Linked DNA regions of Homo sapiens: region 1 is linked to region 2. The links come from fine-mapping of genetic effects on gene expression. A gene starts in region 2. The other region holds a variant in brackets. All regions are shown on one strand. Distances are from middle to middle.

Region 1 (5,000 bases), 28 kb after region 2:
CCCCTCCTTGTTTATTTCCTTCTTAGCTCTTATCATAGTTTGTAATAATTTTATTTAATACATTTTTTCTTATACTCTTTTTTTTCTTATACTCTCTGCTAGAAGGTAAGCTTGAGGGGGGCAGGCACCATGTCTGTTGTATTCACTGTTGCGTCCCAGTTCGTGGCACTTCATACACACTTGGTGAATGAATGAAAGGACAAAATAATAAATGATCAAATGAACTCATAGCTCTCGTAGCACCTTGGATGGAAGGTGATGATCTTTGTGACCTCTGATGATTCTATCCATTGGCCGGTTTGCACCCAGGGCATTGGCCCAGAGACTCCAAGGAAACAGCTCTCTAGACTGCAAGGGTAGGACAGCAAGTGAGGCCTTGTCCTGGCCTTCCCTTAGGGACTAGGAGCAGGCCATTCTGTTCCCTGGAGGCCTCGCCCAGAGACATGGCATCTTGGGTATTTTTACTGCCTGGGTGGAGGTGTATTGATCCAGTTCCTCCTCATTCATTCACTGATGTGTTTCTTGGTTCACTAAACAAACATATTCAAGGTCAGGTATAGCATAAGGCTCTCTGCTAGGCATTGAATGGACTCATAACAATAATTTTTTGATTTCTTTTTTTTAAGGGGTGTTGGGGGACAGGGTCTTGCTCCGCCACCCAGGCTGGAGTGCAGTGGTGCGACCACAGCTCACTACAGCCTTGACCTCCTGGGCTCAGTTCTCCCACCTCAGTTCCCTGAATAGCTGAGACTACATGCATGCGCCCTTATGCCTGGCCAATTTTTTGGTATTTTTAGTAGAGACAGGGTTTTGCCATGTTGCCCAGACTGGTGTTGAACTCCTGGGCTCAAGTGATCCTCCTGCCTCAGCCTCCCAAAGTGCTGGGATTACTGGTGTGAGCCACCATGCCCAGCTGGTTCTCTGTTTGCTAAGCCTCATCTCCCTCATTGTCCAGCCACCTCCAGTTGAAGGCTGTGTCCTCCATTCAGCCTTCCCAAGAGTCTCCTTTGTGAGTCAGAAATGAAACAACTCTGAAATCTCCCTGGGTTACACAACAAAAGTTTTCCCTCCTATTCTGTGTGGCAGGGGTTTGTTTCTGCTCTACACAGTTCCTTAGAGTCCCAGGGAGACAGGGGCCCAACTTTCCGGTGCCCTTTAGAATACGAGGCATCCACATCAGCCCCTGCTACCAGGAAAAAGAGACTGGAGAATTGTGCGTAGGCCAGTCCAGGAGTGATGCTTGTCCCTTCTACACCTCTTTTGTTGGCCAGAACTAGTCACATGGTTGCATCCACCTGCAACAGGCCTGGGAGGTGGAAGGCAGCAGATGGCTGTTTAGTGAATGGCCCTGGTCCTGGCCCAGCTCAAAGGCTGTCCCCTCCTTTGGGCACCATCTCTCTCCCTTCTCTGATCTTTCATCACAGGGGAAAGAGACACCAGTGTGGGGTCTGCCAATTGGAGTTTTACTCCCCGCCAGTGATGAGTCTTAGCAGCTGTGCACCTGTTAGACTGTATCATTTTACCTGGTTTCCCTACCTTTAACATAGAGATGAGTTACTTAGCTTTGAGGAAGTTGTGAGGCACCAGTGAGGCAGTATATGGAGAAACACCGAGCAATGTACCTGGCACAGGTGAGGTGCTCAGTGAGGATCTGTGGAAAGATTGAACAACTCTGTGCTGACACTGTATGCTAGCATTGCTAGTCAGCACCTTCCCTTCCCCCCAGCCTGTGAGGTCCTGAGTCTGGCGACCCCTCTTCCATGCCCCCAGTTCACAGAGCTTCCAATATGAGTCCCCGCACATAAGCAAGTGACTGATGGTTCATGGACACTTCCACTCTCACTGTCTCATCTGTCCCTCTCAGCAGCCCTATAGAGGAGGCAGAGAAGAAACAGTTGTCCCTGGGCTAGGTGTGGTGGCTCATGCCTGTAATCCCAGCACTTTGGGAGACTGAGGCAGGTGGATCACTTGAGGTCAGGAGTTTGATACCAGCCTGGCCAACATGGTGAAACCCCGTCTGTACTGAAAATACAAAAATTAGCCAGGCATGGTGGCACACACCTGTAGTTCCAGCTACTCAGGAGGCTGAGGCAGGAGAATCTCTTGAACCTGGGAGGTGGAGGTTGCAGTGAGCTGAGATCATGCTACTGCAGTCCAGCCTGGGCAACAGAGTGAGACTCTGTCTTAAAAAAAAAAAAAAAAAAAAAAAAAAGAGAA[A/G]CAGTTGTCTTTCTTTTGTAGAGGAGGAACCAAGTGTCACAGCCACATTGTGAGGGCGTGAGGGCATAGTGAGGTCCCGACTGAATGCCTTGTCTTCTGGTTTTCCCCTTGGCAACACTGGGCACCTCTCACACCTGCAAATTGGTGTGCCTTTCAGCCCCCCTAGGACTCGCCTGCTCATTTGTCCATTTGCTCATTTGGCTGTTCAGTCATGTTGTTCCTTCCACAAACTTTGAGCTGGGGGCTGGGGATCTGGCAGTGAACAAGAGGATGGTTAGGGGTCCCAGCCCTCCGGGAGCTCAGGAATTAATTAGGGGTAAGGGGGTAGATATTAAGAAAACAGCAGCACGAACAGTTCTTTAGCTTTATCTGCCACAGGTGCTGAGAAGCGTAAAAGCGGGGGGCTGTGAGCAAGGATAACGGAGTTAGCCTAATGTAGCTGGATCGGGGAGTCAGGGAGGACTTCTCTGAGGAGATGGGATTTAAACTAAGACTTCAAAGAAGGGTAGAAGTCAGCTGGGGGAGGCTGGTGGGGAATAGGGGTCCCGGCAGTGGGAGCAGGGATGAAGGAGAAGGGATGGAGCTGTCTGTCTTGGAGGAGCAGAAGGCCCCATGGCTGATACTTGGTCAGGCTTCTCCGTAGTTGGCTCCCAAGGGAGAGGACACGTGGGTGGCCAAGTGGCTTAGCTCCTTAGAGAGGGATGGGGTGAGGCCAGGCAAAGGGGATAAGGAGTTGGGCCCTGGGGTGGCTACAGGCCCCCCACCATCCTCTAGCTCAGCCTGCACCTGGGAGGGGCCCCTCCTTTCCCTCACCCTGTCTGTTCCCCTGCCCCACAGACCCTGTGTGAGCAGCTTCGGAAGGAGAACGAGGCTCTGAAGGCCAAGTTGGATAAGGGCCTGGAACAGCGGGATCAGGCTGCCGAGAGGCTGCGGTAAGTTCAGGCCCCTCAGAGAAGGGGTGAGGAGTGGGGGCTGCAGGAGGAGGGGCTGGTGTGCAGCACTGATTTCTGGGTTGAGGACCGTGGCTCTGAGGCCCTGTGCCCAGAGCCCTATTTGGAGGTTACGTCTCTTGATCCTTCTCCTTGGCTCTTTTGGTATTTTCTCTCTGGCCCTTTTGCCACCTTGGGAGGTGTATAGAGTGCCTTGAGAGCTTCAGAAGAAGGTCAGCATAGATTGTACTTCCTTCCTCCTCCAGCACTTGCCTCTCTCCCCTGTTAACGGTGAACTGGCTGTCCAGAGGACTCAGGACTTTGCTGCCTCCTGCTGGTCACCATCCCAACCTGCTCTGTCTTCCTGAGAACATGAGAGCTCCCCCACTGGACTAGGGGGCTTAGACTTAACTGAGGGTTGAGGGTCAGGGAAAGGCATTACAAGTTTATACGCCTTCCCTTCCTTCCTTTGCAAGATTCTGAATTGACAGGTCTTAGGCAAGACCTAGGAGCCTGCATTTCACCAGGAGTCTCTGTGATTATGAACGAGGTAGGCACAGGATCACGCCTTGGGAAACACTGATCTTGACTGTCAGAGCTTGACAAGCCCTTGGAGATCATGCAGACAGACCTCTCACTGTGCAGAGGGGAAACTGAGGCCCAGGGAGAGGCAGGGACTTGATTGGAGTCTTACAACAGGAACTTGGGCCTCCTTGCTCTCCATCCTGTGAGTGGCCACAATTCCTGCCTGCACTGTGGTCCTGGACAGTTTGGGTGATGAGTCATCTGGTGGGTACCAGCTGGGCTCAGGCACATAGGAAAGGCCCGTGTCACAGACAGGACTTGCCACTCTGTTTTTCCCTCCTCTCCTGTTTCTTATTAGAATCAACAGAAAGAGAAGGAATATAAACTTTGTAAGTATGGCCACAGAAGTAATGTTTAACTACTGAGCCACTGGCTATTTTGAATCAGTGTGTAATTTATTTGCTTTTGGATGGCCAAGGATGCACTTTTGGGGTTTTTATAGCCCTAGTGACCCCATCCATGGATTCAGAAACTGAAGCTGGGGAAAAAAGTCACGGATTAGAAGGCAAGAATGCAAGTCTCTGCTGTATGACCTTGGGAAAGTCATTTTACTTATTGGTTTTTCAAGCGGAAACTCAGCTGGCAAATAGAACATAAAGAAGTGGTGGTTGGGCGTTGTGGCTCACACCTGTAATCCCAGCACTTTGGGACGTTAAGGCGGGAGGATTGCTTTGAGTCCATGAGTTTGAGACCAGCCTGGTGAAATACATCACCACCCCTCCCCCAGCCCCAACAAAAAATACCAAAAAAATTAGCTGGGTGTGGTGGTGTGCCTGTAGTCCCAGCTACTCAAGAGGGTGGGGGTGTGTGGTGGGGGAGGTTGGGGGTGGCTGAGGTGGGAGGATTACTTGAGTAGGAGCAGTCGAGGCTGTGGTGAGCCGAGATTGGGCCACTGTACTCCAGCCTGGGTGACAGAACGAGACCCTATCTCAAAAAAAAGAAAGAAGAAACATTTTAGTCAGACCTGAATCCACATCACTAATTTTATGATCTCCTCTATCACCTGCCTTATTAGTTACTTAGAATTTTACTTTAATTTGATTCATCTTTTTACTTAAAATTATAAAGGCAACTTTAACTAGAGTAAATGGAAAACAGCATTACCTGTGATAAATAGAAGATAACTCTAAATACAATGAAAGTGAAAGGATGTTAATAAATTCAGGCTAAGGATCATTGCACATTGAAGGCTCTGGGCCTGCAGCCTGCACCTTCTGTGTTAACGAGGGAAACTGGCGAGTAACTAGAGAGGTGCCCAGGGCCTGTTAG
Region 2 (5,523 bases):
AGCACACAGCAAATACTCCATACATGTTACCTTTTAATGCTTTTATTATGCAGCCTCCACCCCTCTTCTGGAACTTGCTCTAGAGTTAAGTTGGTTATAGATGGATTTTTCATATGTTTTTTATTACCTTCAAATGTGTATTTGGGTCTGACTCTGTAGCTACCTCAGTAGGGGTGGTGGAGGAGGGAGTAGCAGAAAGGAGATCGAGAAGTTGCGTGCTTTAAAACAAAACCAAATAAAACAAAACAAAACAAAGGCAGTTTGATTCTCCTTCTGGGTGTGGCTTTGTGCGAGTGCTTGTCATTACTCTGGAAGAACAAGAGGTTGCACCTGCCTGAGTCACTCAGCTCCCAGCGTCAGGCCCAGCTTCTTGACTTGGAAATCCCCTTCCAGACCACAGGGTAGCAGGCAGTGCCAGGCTAGGGGGCCTGTCTCCCATTCCTGCCATGCTCCTAGAGGCTAGGGTCTCACAGAGGATGTGTATGGTGGGATGGCGCCTGGTGAGGTTGCATTGCTGAGTTTAAGAGCCAAGTTCTACCCAATGCATGCAGCCCACATCTAGACACCACTATCATTTCTTGAATGCCTACTGTGTGCTGAGCCTTGGGCTTTATTTGCATTGTCCAATTTATCCTCATGATTCACATGAGGAATAGGTATATTATCCCCCATTTTCCAGACAGAAGCCTGAGGCTTAGAGGGGCCACCCAGGTAGTAAGTGGCTGAGCAGGGATTGGAATCCCATTAGCTCAATTCATAGCCTGTGTTTATGACAGTGGTGTTTTCTGCAAGGCAGTGAGAAAAATCATGTCATTGTAAAGACAACTTGGTACAGTGGACCAAGCACACAGGACTGGGAGCCAAGGCCCTGGATTCCAAGGCCCTGGTTGTGTCACTCAATGTGTGTGGCCTAGAGTAAGTCCTTTTCTAGACAGAGGACTCAGTTTACCTATCTGTCAAATAGGGGTTTGTTATCTATGGGCTCCATGGTCTCTAACAGGGTGGAATGTCCTGAAGACAAACCAAGACTTCAAAGAATGGAAGAGGTGGGGGCAGTCACGACTTTATAAATAAATGAGTTTTCTCACAAATTGGAACTGTTAAGAAAAAGGATCCAGAACTAGGAAATCAGACAAAAAGATGACTGAGTGCCATTTTTTTATGTCAAGCTTGAGAATTCCCAGCGGACACTTTGAGAAATGAAACTGTCTGCCCGGCTAAGGCCAGACATGCTATAAAAACAGCTGAAATAGTGTGGAAACAAAATGCAAGTAATTAGAGACCAGCCATTTTTAGGTAGATTTTAGTTTTCAGTGGGTAGAGGGTGGGGGTGGAGAAGATGTGGGTTGGGAATAGGAAGAGAGCCCTGCAGGAAGAGAATTGGGAAGTACAGGCACAAAGAGCAGGAAGAAAACTGGCAGGTGCGGACCTGATGGGTGGAGACGATGCCTGGGAGCTGCTATGTAAACCAGGGCCAGGATTCCCAGTTTCTCTGTAGGATCCCCCAGTGGTGAGACTCAGTGGTGCTTTGGAGTTTGCATCGCTTCCTCCCTCCCTCCCTTCTGAATCAAGGCATAAGTGTAATTCTTTTCATAATTAAACTAGAATGAATATCGTTTTGAAGATCTGATAACACCGTTGAATTAACTGAAGGAACCCTAGGAGGTTACAAAGCCTTATAGGAGAATCCCCAGATTAGGTATATAATTTGGGCAAGTATCTGTGTGTGTATTATTGCGAAGTCACAGTTGATTGATGGGTCTCTCTTCTGTAAAATGAGGGTGTGTATTAAACAGTTCCCCAAATCCTTTCCCCTAATTCTTTTTGAGGATGAGGGCCTGTCAATGACTAAGTTTTCAACAGTACCAGTGAAATGGGTCTTTTGCAATAGGTTTTTCATAAAGCTATATTTAGTTTAAAGAGCTGTTCTTTATTCCAAGGTTAGACCTTCCACTTTTTGGAATTAAAATTTAGCTTTCTTTCTTTTTAAAAATAAAAGGATAAGCTTTTAAAAAGCTTTCCTACCCTTAAAGCAAGTTTATGTTCCTTACCGGTCTAGGAAATCCCAGTCTGTTGGGATTATCTAGCCCACATATAAGTAGGTAGGGTGGAAGGCGGCCTCTGGATTTGCCCACCCGGGTTTGAATCTTGATTCAGCCCCTTACTGAGGTCATCTAACCTTTTTGTGACTCAAATATTATTTAAGAAAAGGTAGTAAAACCCACCTCCCTAGCGTGATTGTGCGAAGAAAATAATGCACGCAAAGCATCTACAATGTCTGGAGCAAAGCGTTTACGATGTCTGGGAATCCTTTACAATGTCTGGAGCAAAAAATGTTCGCGGTAGAGTCTTTATGGGTCTTTTCAGCTCGGAATTTCTATAGCTTTGTTAAGAAGAGTCCTGGAGTGCCCTGGACGGAACTCTGGGGGCCTGAGCTCCAGCTCTGGCTTAGGGCCAAATGCTTACGTGCCTTTTGGCAGGTCCCCTCCCTGTTCTGGCCTGTGTTCCCCTCGGCACAAGGAAGGGGCTGGGTGGTCTCTGTGGCTCGCCTCCGCTCTGAAATTCCGGCTTTCAAGGTGGCCCCAGGCCTTCGACAGGGGCTTCCGGCGCTGGGAGTGCGGCAAGGCGCCGCGCAGGCCCGGGACGGTGGCCCCAGGGAAGTCGCTCCTAGAGGGGAAGGCCGCCGAAGGGACGAGAGACACCGCGGGCCCCCGGAACCGCAGGCAGCCGGTGTTTACCTCGCTCGGTCCCACCCCAGGCGGCCGCGGGCCCGCCCGGAGCGCGCGGCGCGATTGGGCGAGTGGCCTGCCAGTCTCCGGGGACTTTCCCAGGGGTGGGGCGGCCCGGCCAGGCCCCCGGCACTTCCTCGTCCTCGGCCCGGGTGCCCTGCCCCCGTCCAGGAGCCCTAGGAGTGCTACGGGGGGCCGGAGCCTTGCCCGGGCCGCTGCCCCGTCCCTGGATTCGGGGCTGGACGCAGCAAGCGGGGCGCTGTGTCCCCAAGCTCCCCGTCCTCGGGTAAGCCGGCCGGCCCGGAGCGGGGATGGAGGGGAGGAAGGGAGGCCAGGCCCAGATCGTCCAGAGCCTCGGTGGCGGCGGGGAGCGAGCTGGGGAAGGTGGCTTGTGCACCCAGGCCCGGCGCGCGGGGTCCCGGGGCGTCTCCGCCAGCGGCCAAGCCGGGCTGAGCCGCTACTCCCTGCTTGGCGCTGGGCCTGGTGGGGGGCGCGCGTGCGCACTGCGCGGGGTAGCACGCCTGGGAACGGCGTGGGGCGGTTGTAGAGAGCGCAGACCCTCCGGGTGCGGGCGGCGCTGCGGCCCTTTGGGTGTCTATCCTGTGGAGACGAGTTGCCTACGCGGCGTCAGGAGTTTTCGTATCAAGTTGTGGAAGCAGTGTACATATGTCACGAGGAGGAAAATAATAATTTTTATTGGGCGCTTTCCAAGTGCTGATCTTAACGCTGTACGTGTATTAGACTCATTTAATTGTCACTTCCATCCTAAACATTAATATTGTTATTATCTCCATTTTATACTTTAGGAAACCGAGGTACTTGGAGCTTGAGGTCACACAGCTGTGAGTTGCAAAGTCAGATATGAACTCAGGCATTTGGCTCCAGAGTTCCTACTATACTATTTCTGTTGAACATATTTTGTATGCACATTGTTGGAGGCATTTGTGTGCATGTGCAGGATGGATGAGTTTCCAGGAGTGCTTCTGGGGATGGAGTATGAAGGCTGAGCTTTCCACTGTAGGACATTTGTGTGCACGTGTGCATTGTACATTCATTGTGCGTACAGGAGCAGATGGGAATTTTGTGCGACTGGGTGAGAGATTGTGTTTTGGTAGGGGGAGGGAGGGACTTTTGTGGATGATGCAGAAGAATCAGCAACGTCCTTCCCCACCCCCTTGCAGAATGACAGTGCAGGGAAATGTGTAGATTCCTAATGCATCATTTTTTTCTCACAGTACGGTCAAAATGGGATTTAATCAGCACTTACTCATTTTCCAAACAATGGGGTGTGATAGAGGGGAATTCGGCATCTGATGAGAGGTCAGAAAAGGGGACTCAGAATGTTTTAAAAAAATCCTTGACAAAGGAGGGTAGAATTGTATTAGGAGGGTAGAATATTAGTACAAACTCAGCATCCCCGTGGTGGTCTCTGTTTTGCAACAGAAGAAACTGAGGCAGTGAAAAAACTGATAATGCTAATAGCTTACTATGTGCCAGGCACAGTGCTTACATTCCGTATCTCATTTAATCTTTTTTTTTTTTTTGAGACAGAGTCTCACTCTGTTACCCAGGCTGGAGTGCAGTGGCACGATCTCGGCTCACGGCAACTTGCCTCCCAGGTTCAAGCGATTCTCCTACCTCAGCCTCCCGAGTAGCTGGGATTACAGGCACTCGCCACCATCCCCGGCTAATTTTTTTGTATTTTGAGTAGAGACAGTTTCACCATGTTGGCCAGGCTGGTCTCAAACTCCTGACCTCAAGTGATCCGCCCGTCTCAGCCTCCTAAAGTGCTGGGATCACAGGTGTGAGCCGCCCCGCCCGGCCTCACTTAATCTTTCTAACAACTCTTAATTTTCAGATGAGGAAACTGAGGCCCAGAGAAGGTTAAGGCTTTCCCAAGACTAGCAACGCTTGAATCCTGGACCCTGTTCCCTTTCCCCTGACCAAGGCTGCTGTCCTGGCTGTGTCCCGGGAAAATAATGTGATCAGGGACTGGCACTTCATGGAAGCACGTGATCATGCCCCTCTGGAAGCTGCCGCTGGGAGTGTGCAGTGTTCTACACGCTTATGTAACCACGTTTGTCTCCCAGCCTTGGGTGTTCCATGGGTATGGCATGGCACTCATGCTGAAGGTTGATGCCTGCCCCTGGATACCCCCACCAGTTTTTTCGGGGCCCCAGGAAGCTGTGGGGTCTGAGTCATACCCTTACCCCCAGTGCTGCCTGTGACTTGGGGCCCGGATGTCCTGGTTGGGTCAGGCCGACCTGATTTGAGAGAGGCAGCGTTGTAGGAGGTTGTTTGTCTGCCTCTCTCTCCAACCCACTGGTTACTGTTTTACTCCTGTACCCGCTGTGATTTGGTCACACCATGCTGGCCTGCTTTTCCCCCTCCAGCAAGCCAAGCTTGTTCTCATCCTTAGGCTTTCATACATGCTGTTCCCTCTGCCCAGGACATCTTTCCCCGTTTTTCCCATGGCTGGTTTTTCCTTATCGATCAAGTCTCAGCTCAAATGTCAGCTCCTCAGAGGGGCCTTCCCTGATCTTTTTATGCAAAGCAGCCCCTTTTTTCACTTTCTGTCACGTTACTATTTTATTTTTCTCATACGTGTATCATGCTATGAAAGAATCTTATTTGCGAATGAGAAAGCATATGTATAGAACTTAGTGTCTGGCAAATTGTTATTTTTAGTGTTTATTTGTTTACTGTCTTTCTCTTTTCCTAGAATAGAAGGGGGTGAGCAGGGACCTCCTTAGTCCTCTCGAGTGTATTTCTGTAGCGGGAGAAGAGTGCCTGG

What was found. PIP is the estimated chance that this variant, and not a neighbour inherited with it, causes the effect.
Region 1: its variant is fine-mapped to the expression of TNIP1 in whole blood (TOPMed, PIP above 0.99).

What each region holds. Positions count from the first base shown.
Region 1 is chr5:151,050,314-151,055,313 of GRCh38, reverse strand. TNIP1 (TNFAIP3 interacting protein 1) reads left to right here. Exons shown (of 18, transcript NM_006058.5): 7 at 3,055-3,149. Among named protein-coding and RNA genes, the nearest start is that of TNIP1, 28 kb to the left of the region's middle. The variant A/G (reference allele first, on the strand shown) is at 2,218.
Region 2 is chr5:151,078,372-151,083,894 of GRCh38, reverse strand. It overlaps TNIP1 (TNFAIP3 interacting protein 1), which reads left to right and starts at 2,861. Exons shown (of 18, transcript NM_006058.5): 1 at 2,861-3,015. RefSeq lists enhancers at 115-224, 345-454, 2,267-2,326, 2,041-2,751, cis regulatory regions at 2,292-3,061, 2,561-3,349 and silencers at 2,627-3,296, 4,982-5,031.